Linked DNA regions of Homo sapiens: region 2 is linked to region 1. Evidence: fine-mapped expression QTL. Tissue or cell type: visceral fat. Region 1 holds a variant in brackets; the other region holds the start of a gene. All regions are shown on one strand. Distances are between the middles of the regions.

Region 1 (5,149 bases):
AATATTACTAAGAAAATTTTGTGTGCTCCAACAGGATTCCTTAAGATTGTGTGGGCACTCTACTTAAGACATGCTAATTTATTTACTCTTATCTAACCATGTCATCATCTTGTAACTCTAGACTACTTCTTTTTACATATTGCCCCTTTATTGCAATTTAATGTTCCATCTTGAAAAGTCTTCTTTACTTTTACAAATAATACACAGGTTTGTCATTTCAGGTGCCATTGACATTCAGCGATGTTGCCATAGACTTCTCTCAGGAGGAGTGGGAATATTTAAACTCGGATCAGAGGGATTTGTACAGAGATGTGATGTTGGAGAATTATACTAACTTGGTCTCATTGGGTAAGAATATCTGCACAAAATGATGTACAATATGCTCTCTAGAATATCAGCCTTCTCTGTTGTATATTTTATGGTCTATGCCAAGAAACCAGCTACATTTCTGCTCCATATTCTCAAAGTTTGTTAGGTGGAAATGGGCATATTTGAAGTTTGTTAGGTGGAATGGGCACCCCCATTCAGCACCTGAATCTTCACTATTCTTCACTTGCCTTTATGCCTGCCTCTGCCCTGTCCTATAATTACTTCTTTTTCTAAATGACTAGAGGTTTGAATTCTGGTATTTTTCTGCAAAGACACTATCAGCAAAAACAAATTTTAAATTATATGTGTGTTCAGAATGTCTGTAAATACTTTAATTGCTAATCTTCCTACATAAAAAACCATGGTTTTCTCTTTACCACAAAAGAGCCTCCATAATTTTTATAGTAGTAGAATGAATTAAGATTATTCTCTTTTTTACTGTTATTTTTGTAGTTCTAGCAGTTGGCCTGTTGGCTTCCAGTGATCTGATAGATTCCATGCAGAAGGGGCAGTCTTTGTTCAGTTTTTGGAAGATAGGTGACCATTCTCTCCTCCCATCTGGGACTTTAATTACACCTATGTTAGACCTTTTGAGCATATCCCACAACTTTTTCATGTCCTTATCTGCTTTTCTCCTCTCTTTCCCCTCTATTTTTCATATGATGGAGTTTGAATGTTTCCTGTTGACCTGTATTCCAGCTCACTTATTCTGTTTTCTAAAGAGGGGTTTTTCATGTCAGATATTGTCTTTTTCAGTTCCAGAAATTCAATTTAATTCTCTTTTATAACTTCCAAATACTTGTTGAAATCTTCATTCTTTTATTTGCTTTCCTTTTATTACTAAATTTTCATCTGTTTTCTTGGAACATTTTAATCATAGTTAATTTTTTAATTCTTTTATGCCTCATTTTTTGTATCATCTGGGGGTCTGCTTCTTTATTGTTTCTTTCTTTTAATCTTGTTATTTGTCATTTGTTAATGCATCTTCAAGTTACTAGTAGTTGTGATTGTATGCTGGGCATTGCATATAAAATAACTGAAGAGGTTTCAGATGATGCTATCTTCCACCAGAGGGTATTTATGTTTTCCTCTGTTAGTCTGATAGAATGCAGGCTGATGACAGTAATACAACCAGGAATTAAATGGGTCACTGCTGGTTTTCAGTTTGATAATGCTCAGCTACCTCTTTGTAAACGCTGTTCTTTTAACTCCTGCTGTACTTAGAATCAGGGAGTTTTTTCAGGGGAAAAGTAGTTGTAGAGCCTTAGGGCCAACTTACCACTCCTGGCTGGTGGAAACAGGAACTATCCCCTAACTACCCTTGGTGACTTTCAGGTATTGTTCTGCCTACCCCTATATGGTGGTGCTTTCCTTTGCCTCATTAGTTTGCTCACATGTAAATTCATATCAGTACTCAGCCAGAGCCTCCAGGGTAGTTCCATCAGAGTGAACAGGCAACCTACAAAATGGGAGAAAATTTTCGCAACCTACTCATCTGACAAAGGGCTAATATCCAGAATCTACAATGAACTCAAACAAATTTACAAGAAAAAAACAAACAACCCCATCAAAAAGTGGGCGAAGGACATGAACAGACACTTCTCAAAAGAAGACATTTATGCAGCCAAAACCACATGAAAAAATGCTCACCATCACTGGCCATCAGAGAAATGCAAATCAAAACCACAATGAGATACCATCTCACACCAGTTAGAATGGCAATCATTAAAAAGTCAGGAAACAACAGGTGCTGGAGAGGATGTGGAGAAATAGGAACACTTTTACACTGTTGGTGGGACTGTAAACTAGTTCAACCATTGTGGAAGTCAGTGTGGCGATTCCTCAGGGATCTAGAACTAGAAATACCATTTGACCCAGCCATCCCATTACTGGGTATATACCCAAAGGACTATAAATCATGCTGCTATAAAGACACATGCACACGTATGTTTATTGCGGCATTATTCACAATAGCAAAGACTTGGAACCAACCCAAATGTCCAACAATGATAGACTGGATTAAGAAAATGTGGCACATATACACCATGGAATACTATGCAGCCATAAAAATGATGAGTTCATGTCCTTTGTAGGGACATGGATGAAATTGGAAACCATCATTCTCAGTAAACCAT[C/T]GCAAGAACAAAAAACCAAACACCGCATATTCTCAGTCATAGGTGGGAATTGAACAATGAGATCACATGGACACAGGAAGGGGAACATCACACTCTGGGGACTGTTGTGGGGTGGGGGGAGGGGGGAGGGATAGCATTGGGAGATATACCTAATGCTAGATGACGAGTTAGTGGGTGCAGCACACCAGCATGGCACATGTATACGTATGTAACTAACCTGCACAATGTGCACATGTACCCTAAAACTTAAAGTATAATAATAAAAAATAAATAAATAAATAAATAAAAATAAAGTAAAAGGGGAAATCTGATCCCTCTTAATGTTTCATAACTAAAAGCACAAGTTATTTTCTGTTATCTTTAAAAGCTTCTTTGCATTTTAGTACAAGAGGTTCCAGATTCGCCTTGTATCTTCCCTCCCTGAACTAGGAATTAGCTATTTCTCCAAGGCACCCTAGTTCACATTAATGGGAAATAGTATATAGAGACCGAAGCCTGGCCAACAGGGAGCTAACTAATTGTGACCAGCTGTTTGTGGGGAAAAATATTTTAAATTTTTTTTCTATTTTTTTCATGGAAATTGGTCTGTTTAGATTTTCCATCTCTTCTGGAGTCTATTTGTTGTTATTGTTTTACTTTCATTTTGAAATAATTTTAGAGTTATAGACAAGTTACAAATGTGGTACCACAGGTTCCTATAATGATAACATCTTACATAATCATGGTACATTTATGCAAACTAGCAAGTTAACATTGTTAACAAAACTATAGGCAAACTATTAGCAAAACTATAGATTTTATTCAGTGTACCAGTTTTTCCACTGTCCTTTTTTCTATTCCGTGATTCAATCCAGGATATCACATTGCATTTAGCCATCATGTGTTTTAGTTTCCTCCTACCTGTGACAGTTTCTTTGTCTTTCCTTGTCCTTTCTGGCCTTGATACTTTTTGAAGAGTACTAGTCAGGTATTTTGAAAAGTGCCGGACAATTTGGGTTTGTTGAATTTTTTATGATTAAACTGGGATTATCGGCTTTGGGGAAGAATACCAGAGAAGTAGCTTTCTCATCATATTGTATCAGAAATACATGATATCAGCATGATTTATTGCTGAGGTATTAACCTTATAAATTTGTTTAAGGTGATGTCCGTCATTTTTCTTCACTGTAAAGTTATTATTTTTCCCTTTTCATATTCTGTTTGCTAGAAGCCAGCCAGTAAGTCTAGCTGGTGTCACTTTTGATAAATTTTATTTTCAGGAAGATTCATCATTTCATGTACATTTGAAATATATTAGCACAGTTGTATGATTTTTTTAACATTCTTTATTTCTTTATTGATGGTCATTTCCCCCTTGTCATTATATTTGGATTTTCCCTCCTATCTTTTATTCCTTAGGTATAAAGGAAATAATGGTTTGTATGTGTTAATTCTACTGTTTTATTTAAATTTTGCTTGTATTATATTTTTCTTTTCTGCAGTCCATCATTCTTTTCCTAATGTCTCCCTAATTTTTATTTATATTTATTTATTTATTTTTGAGACAGAATCTCACTCTGTCGCCCAGGCTAGAGTACAGTGGCGCAATCTCAGCTCACTGCAACCTCTGCCTCCTGGGTTCAAATGATTCTTGTGCCTCAGCTTCCCAAGGAGCTAGGACTATAGGTGTGTGCCACCACACCTGGCTAATTTTTGTAATTTTAGATTTCCTATTGTTGGCCAGGTTGGTCTTGAACTCTTGGCCTCAAACAATCTGCCTGCTTCGGCCTCCCAAAGTGCTGGGATTACAGGCATGAGCCATTGAGCCTGGCTGTTTTCCCTAATTTTTAAATGAAATGCTTCATTTATTCATTTTAATTCTTTTATTTTTAATTAGATGTAAGCATGTTAATCTTTGAGTTTGCCTTGGTGCATTATAACTGAAAGCCATAGATTCTGATATGTAGTATCTCCATTATCACTGTCTTCAAGAAATTCTACAGTTTCAGTTTGTATTTTGTCTTTGACCTAAGAGTAGTTGTTGAGTACTTTCTGTTTATAAATAGGAAGTGTTTTGGCTGTTTGATATTGCTACTTATCCTTTATTGCATTGGCTCAGAGGATAACATCTGTATTATTTTGACTTTTTAAATTTATACTTTTTTCACAGAATTCCACTTGTTTTCAATACTTGACCCATTTAGCATATTAGATTTCAAAGGCTGCTCCCTCACACAGATTATCAATCTTCAGCCTACGTCCAATATATTCTTTGTTGCAAACTACTAGGCACTCAGTTTCCTAGACTCTTGCCCCATTTTTTACTTTATTTTTCCCAATATCCCCAGGTTTATTTGCTTTGACTTTGATAAGCCTTTCAATATATTAATTCGTGCAATTCCTGAAAAATTACTGAGATGCATTTCTGTAGAATTCAAGAATGATCCACCTTGGCTTTAAATGAATAGAAGGTAGAATTTGGGAAAGGCATTGAAGAAACACAACAGATTGAAAATGTGTAGAATGAAAAGAAGTAAAACCTTCAACCTTACAGGCATTATTTGTAGATTTAAAAAAAAAATTATTTAAAACATTACAGTAAAAATTAATGCAACACGTGATTACTTTGATTGAGATAGAAACAGAAAAGCATGGCTATGCAAAGG
Region 2 (5,149 bases), 290 kb before region 1:
TCATTTTTGCAGCTTTTCTACAAGTTTGAAATTATATTTTTAAAAAAAGTTGGCTGGGCACGGTGGCTCATGCCCATAATCCCAACACTTTGGGAGGCCGAGGTGGGTGGATCACCTGAGGTCAGGAGTTCGAGACCAGCCTGGCAAACATGGTGGAACCCCATCGCTACTAAAAATACAAAAAAATTAGCCGGTGTGGTGGCGGGTGCCTGTAATCTCAGATGTTTGGGAGGTTGAGGCAGGAGAATCTTTTGAACCTGGGAGGCGGAGGTTGCAGTGAGCCGAGATCACGCCATTGCACTCCAGCCTGGGCAACAAAAGTGAAACTCTGCCTCAAAAAAAAAAAAAAAAAAAAAGTTAAAGAAATTAGGAAAGTCATTAATCAGAATAATAACGATGACGAGATGATGACAACTATGGCAATAATATCTAACGTTAATTAACAATAAATAGGTAGCTGATCTTCCCACTTCAGGCAGAAGGCCTCCAGTACAAAAGATGGGAAGGAATCTACTCCCCAAAGCCTGGGAGAAATAGATCTTCAGGACTCTGAGTTTCTCCATTTTGACTCTAGACTTGACAGCTGCCTTCTACTCATGTCATGGTTTTTGCAAAGAAACTTGACAGTTAATATTTAGTGGGAAAGAAAAATCACTGGACTGAGTAGGGTTCTAGTATGGCCAGCTCAGTTTTATCTGTGACATCTGGCAGGGTCAGTTTTCTAGTCCTGAGTTTCCAGATAAGACCTTTTCCTGAGCTTCTCAAACTTTAACATGCATCTCGCTCACCTTGGGATCTTGTTGAAATGCAGATTTCTGGGTCCTATCTGCAAAAATGCTAAATCAGAAGGCCTTCGGTAGGGCTCAAGAATGAGCCTTTCTACCTGGGTGATGCCAATGTTGCTGCTTTGTGAACCACAGTTTGAGTAGTGTTGCACTGTACTCAGTCCCTCTCCCAAAACAGCCCCTAATAAACAGAAATATATACAAGAAAAACTTGACAGAAAGGCACTAAACTATAGTTGTTATCTTTATACCCTAAGGTCATGGGGAATTTACATTTTTTAAATGTATTTCTGTGTTTTCCATGATTATGTGTTACCTCTATATTATTTGAAACAAATAAAACTAATAATTGAGAAAACTATTTTTAAAAACTCTTTTCTTTTTTTGAGACAGAGTCTTGCTCAGTTGCCGAGGCTGGAGTGCACCGGTGTGATCTCAGCTTACTGCAGCCTCGCCTCCTGGGTTCAAGCGATTCTCCTGCCCCAGCTTCCCAAACTCCTGGGATTACAGGTGTTGGCCACCACGCCTGGCTAATTTTTGTATTTTTAGTAGAGATGGGGTTTCGCCATGTTGGCCAGACTGGTCTCAAACTCCTGGCCTCAAGTGATCTGCCCGCCTCAGACTCCCAAAGTGCTGGGATTACAGGCGTCAGCCACTGTGCCCAGCCACTATTTTTTAAAAGTCATAGAATAGCCCAGACCTTGAGCAAAGTCCCCACAGTGAAGTCCCAACCTATTTTCACATGATACTAGCCAGCTGCCTATGGCTCATGCAGAACATACCAAAGAAGACTCAGGTCTAGACTCAGACTGCCTCGGTTTCAATGCTAGCTCTGCCTCCTACTAGCTAGGTGGCTATGAGCAAACAAGTTATGTTCTTATGTCTCAGTCTCCTCGGAAAAAGAGTATCACTTCACAGAGCCACTGTATAGTGGAAAGGTGTTCATTTGTATAAACCCCTTAGAATGGAACTTAGCAACTAACGCTAAATTATAATCACTTCTCATGCCCAAATACATGACCCCACACATTCTCTGATTTATGTGAATAAAACAAGAATAACAACAAGTCTTACTCACATGGGGTTCTGCTGCCTCCTCCTCTGTGCAGTGCTTTTTGAGAAGTCAGGGCTGGGGAAGAAAAACAGGCTATGAAGTAACCAGGATTGTGTCTTCATCCCGGATACATCACAGTGGCATCTCCCAGGACCAGTTAGAAGCAACCCTCTCCTTCCTCAAAAGAGGTCAGGGACAATCCAGCTTCATGGACTCACAGAATTTCGCCACAGAACGGGAGTTTCTAGGAAAATTACAGTAGTATTGGTAATTCACGTGCCAGGCAGTTTTACACTTTTTGTATTACCTCGTTTTCTCTCAAAACATTCTATTAGGAAGTTTTTGCTTTTATTTTCCTTCAGAACAGCAAACGAAGGCACGGGGATTAACTAACTCGCTCAATGTGATACTGTATGAAGTGGTAGGGCTGGCTCATTAGGTGGGGGAGTCACAATGAGGGAGCGAACAGCCCGAGAGACCTTCAAACCCGACGAAGCATCACCCCAGCCGCCCGAAGCCAGTACGCCCCCAATTCTAACAAGCTCCGCCCAGGGAAACGCAAAACAGCATCCTGGCCCCTCAAACCTCCGCTCTTAGCCGCTACTCCTTTTTTTCCCCAAACAAAAGACCGCTAGCTGCTGACCACAAGTGCATTTCGGGGAAGTTTGAAAGGTTCCTGAGAAGCTGACCTGAATCACCAAAGCCAGGGAAAAGATGGCTGCTACGTCGTCTTCCTGGGCGGAAGTGCCTGCGAGTATCAGGAGGACCTGGACTACGCTTCCCAGAATTCCACAGCACTGCCTTCCTCGAGCCGGAAGTGCCTACAACTACCTAGAACGATTGGACCTACAGTTCCCAGGATTCCGCAGGGGAAACATTTACAGCCTTACTGCAGCTGAGCTATGCGCGACTACACGGAACTCCGGACTACATATCACAGAATGCTGGAGTTGGGGGAAAAACAGAACAGTACCGCCCTCCTGGACTACACTTCCGGAATGTCCAAGCCTTCTGATGTGGAAGTGTCCAACTACCTTGAGCTCCTGGTTTTCATTTCCCAGAATCCCTCACTTCTCTTTAGGTATTATTATGGTCTGAGTGTTTATGGCCCCCACCAAATTCGTATGTTTAAATCCTAACTCCCAAGAAGATATTAGGAGGTGGAACCTATGGGACGTGATCAGATCAAGAGGGCAATGCCCTCATGAATAGGATTAATGCTCTCTTATAAGTGGCCTGAGGGAGCTCCTTTGCCTCTTTAGTTATGTGAGGACACAGCCAGAAGGACCATGTATGACTTAGAAAGCGGGACCTCACCAGACACTGAATCTGCTGGCACCCGATCTGGGGCTTATGTGCCAGCAATTTCACTCCTAAGTAAATACCCAGGAGAACTGAAAGATATCCACACAAAAACTTGTTCTAAAAAAGTTCATAGCAGCATTAGTCATAATAGTCAAAAAGTGGAGAAGACCCAATGTCCATCAGCTGATGAGTGGATAAACAAAATGTGGTCTAGCCATATAATGCAATATTATTTAGTAATGTGAATGAACAAAATATTGATTCATGTTATAACATAGATGAACTCTGAAGACATTATGTCCAATGAAAGAAGCCAGACACAAGATACCATATATGGTATGATTCCATTTATATCAAATGTGCAGAATAGGCAAGTCCATAGAGACAGAAAGTAAATTAGTTGTCTCCAAGGCTGGGGAGATGTAGTTGGGAATGGGGAGTGACTGTCAATATGTAGGGTTTTTTTTTTCTTACTTTTTTAGAGACAGCGTCTTGTTATGTTTCCCAGAATGGAGTACAGTGGCTATTCACAGGCATGATCATAGCACACTGCAGCCTTAAATTCTTGGGCTCAAGTGATCCTCCCGCCTCAGCCCCCTGGGTAGTTGAGACTACAGGCATGCACCACCACACCCAGCTCATGTAGGGGATTTCTTTTGGGAGCAGATGAAAGAGTTCTAGGATTAGATAGTGGTAATCATTACATAATATTGTGGATCTTTTCAAAGATAGAAAAATGTTATGTGACAATATCCCCTAAAGCGTTAAAATGTAGCTAAACTCAAAGCTAAGACAGGGAAATCCCAACGGCCAAAGATGAACAGGCAAGTTAGGCCCACAGATGAAAAAACTGAATGATCCCACAAGGGCTGGGCATACTAGGTAAGAGCTAAGGAATTAATCTTGTGTGTGAATGGGAGTTAGAGTAGCCATGCATTTTGGGAGACATGAACTATACAATATTACAAATGAAACAGTTCTCTCCTCTTGACTGTGAACAAACAACAACCAACCAAAAACAAAGCCAGATAGCTCCCAGCTTCTACAGCTGTCTTGTGACTAACCTGAAAACTCTGGTCATGAGGAGGGTAGATGTAGACTGTACCTACAGTCTTATCAGTTATGGGGCAGAGGGGCAAGAAATTATTTGGTTTAGTCTACTGGTTTTGGTTACAAATTACCTTGAAGGAAGATGACCTAATGTGGTATCTGGTGATACAAAGAAAGAAAAAGAAAGAAAAGAATATAGGTACTGGATTTCTGAAGCCCTTTGTTCAGAAAAGAGTTAACATAGGCCTGAGACTGTTGTACTTAAAAGGCCTGCTTGCAACATGCTATAGTTTGATGGTGTTCCCTTGTTAAAACTTAATCCCTTCTTGCTTTTTCATCACTTCCACCATATGAGGACATAGCATCTGTCTCCTCCAGAGGATGCAGCAACTGGATGCCATATTGGAAGCAGACAGCAGCAGCCCTCACCAGATGTTAAACCTGCCAGCATCTTGACCTTGGACTTCCCAGCCTCAAGCACTATGACAGATAAATTTATATTGTTTATAAATTACCTAATCTGTGGTATTCTGTTATAGCAGCGCAAGATATAAGGTTAGCCCTTGACTGGTATCTGGGAACTTGAATTTCAGGAGGATTTCCACAATTCTCTGATGAGAGTGGCTCACCATGCCCCGGCTATTTGTATAATGTGATTTATGCTGAATTCCTTCTGGGAATCTAGAATTTTGGCCCAAGCTGGCCTATGTGACCAGTTCCAAAACAAAACACAACGTAGTGCCTAGGGCACTAAGTCTCCATTGAGCTTACTGGGTAGACATTTCACATGTTTCAATGCTGAAAAAACAGTACATCATGAATGATTCTACAGGGAGTGGATTATTGGAAGCCTGTACCTGATTTCTTCTGGACTTCATCCCATGCACATTTTCCCTTTGCTCAACTGACTTGGTATCTTTTACTACAATAAATCATAGTGACTATGATAACATAG

The links. PIP is the estimated chance that this variant, and not a neighbour inherited with it, causes the effect.
Region 2: it holds the start of ZNF226, and the variant in region 1 is fine-mapped to the expression of ZNF226 in visceral fat (GTEx, PIP above 0.99).

What each region holds. Positions count from the first base shown.
Region 1 is chr19:43,875,209-43,880,357 of GRCh38, reverse strand. ZNF404 (zinc finger protein 404) reads left to right here. Exons shown (of 3, transcript NM_001033719.3): 2 at 222-348. Among named protein-coding and RNA genes, the nearest start is that of ZNF404, 6.2 kb to the left of the region's middle. The variant C/T (reference allele first, on the strand shown) is at 2,505.
Region 2 is chr19:44,162,522-44,167,670 of GRCh38, reverse strand. ZNF226 (zinc finger protein 226) reads right to left here and starts at 2,571. Exons shown (of 6, transcript NM_001032373.2): 1 at 2,529-2,571; 2 at 1,864-1,914. RefSeq lists enhancers at 2,550-2,669, 2,730-2,879.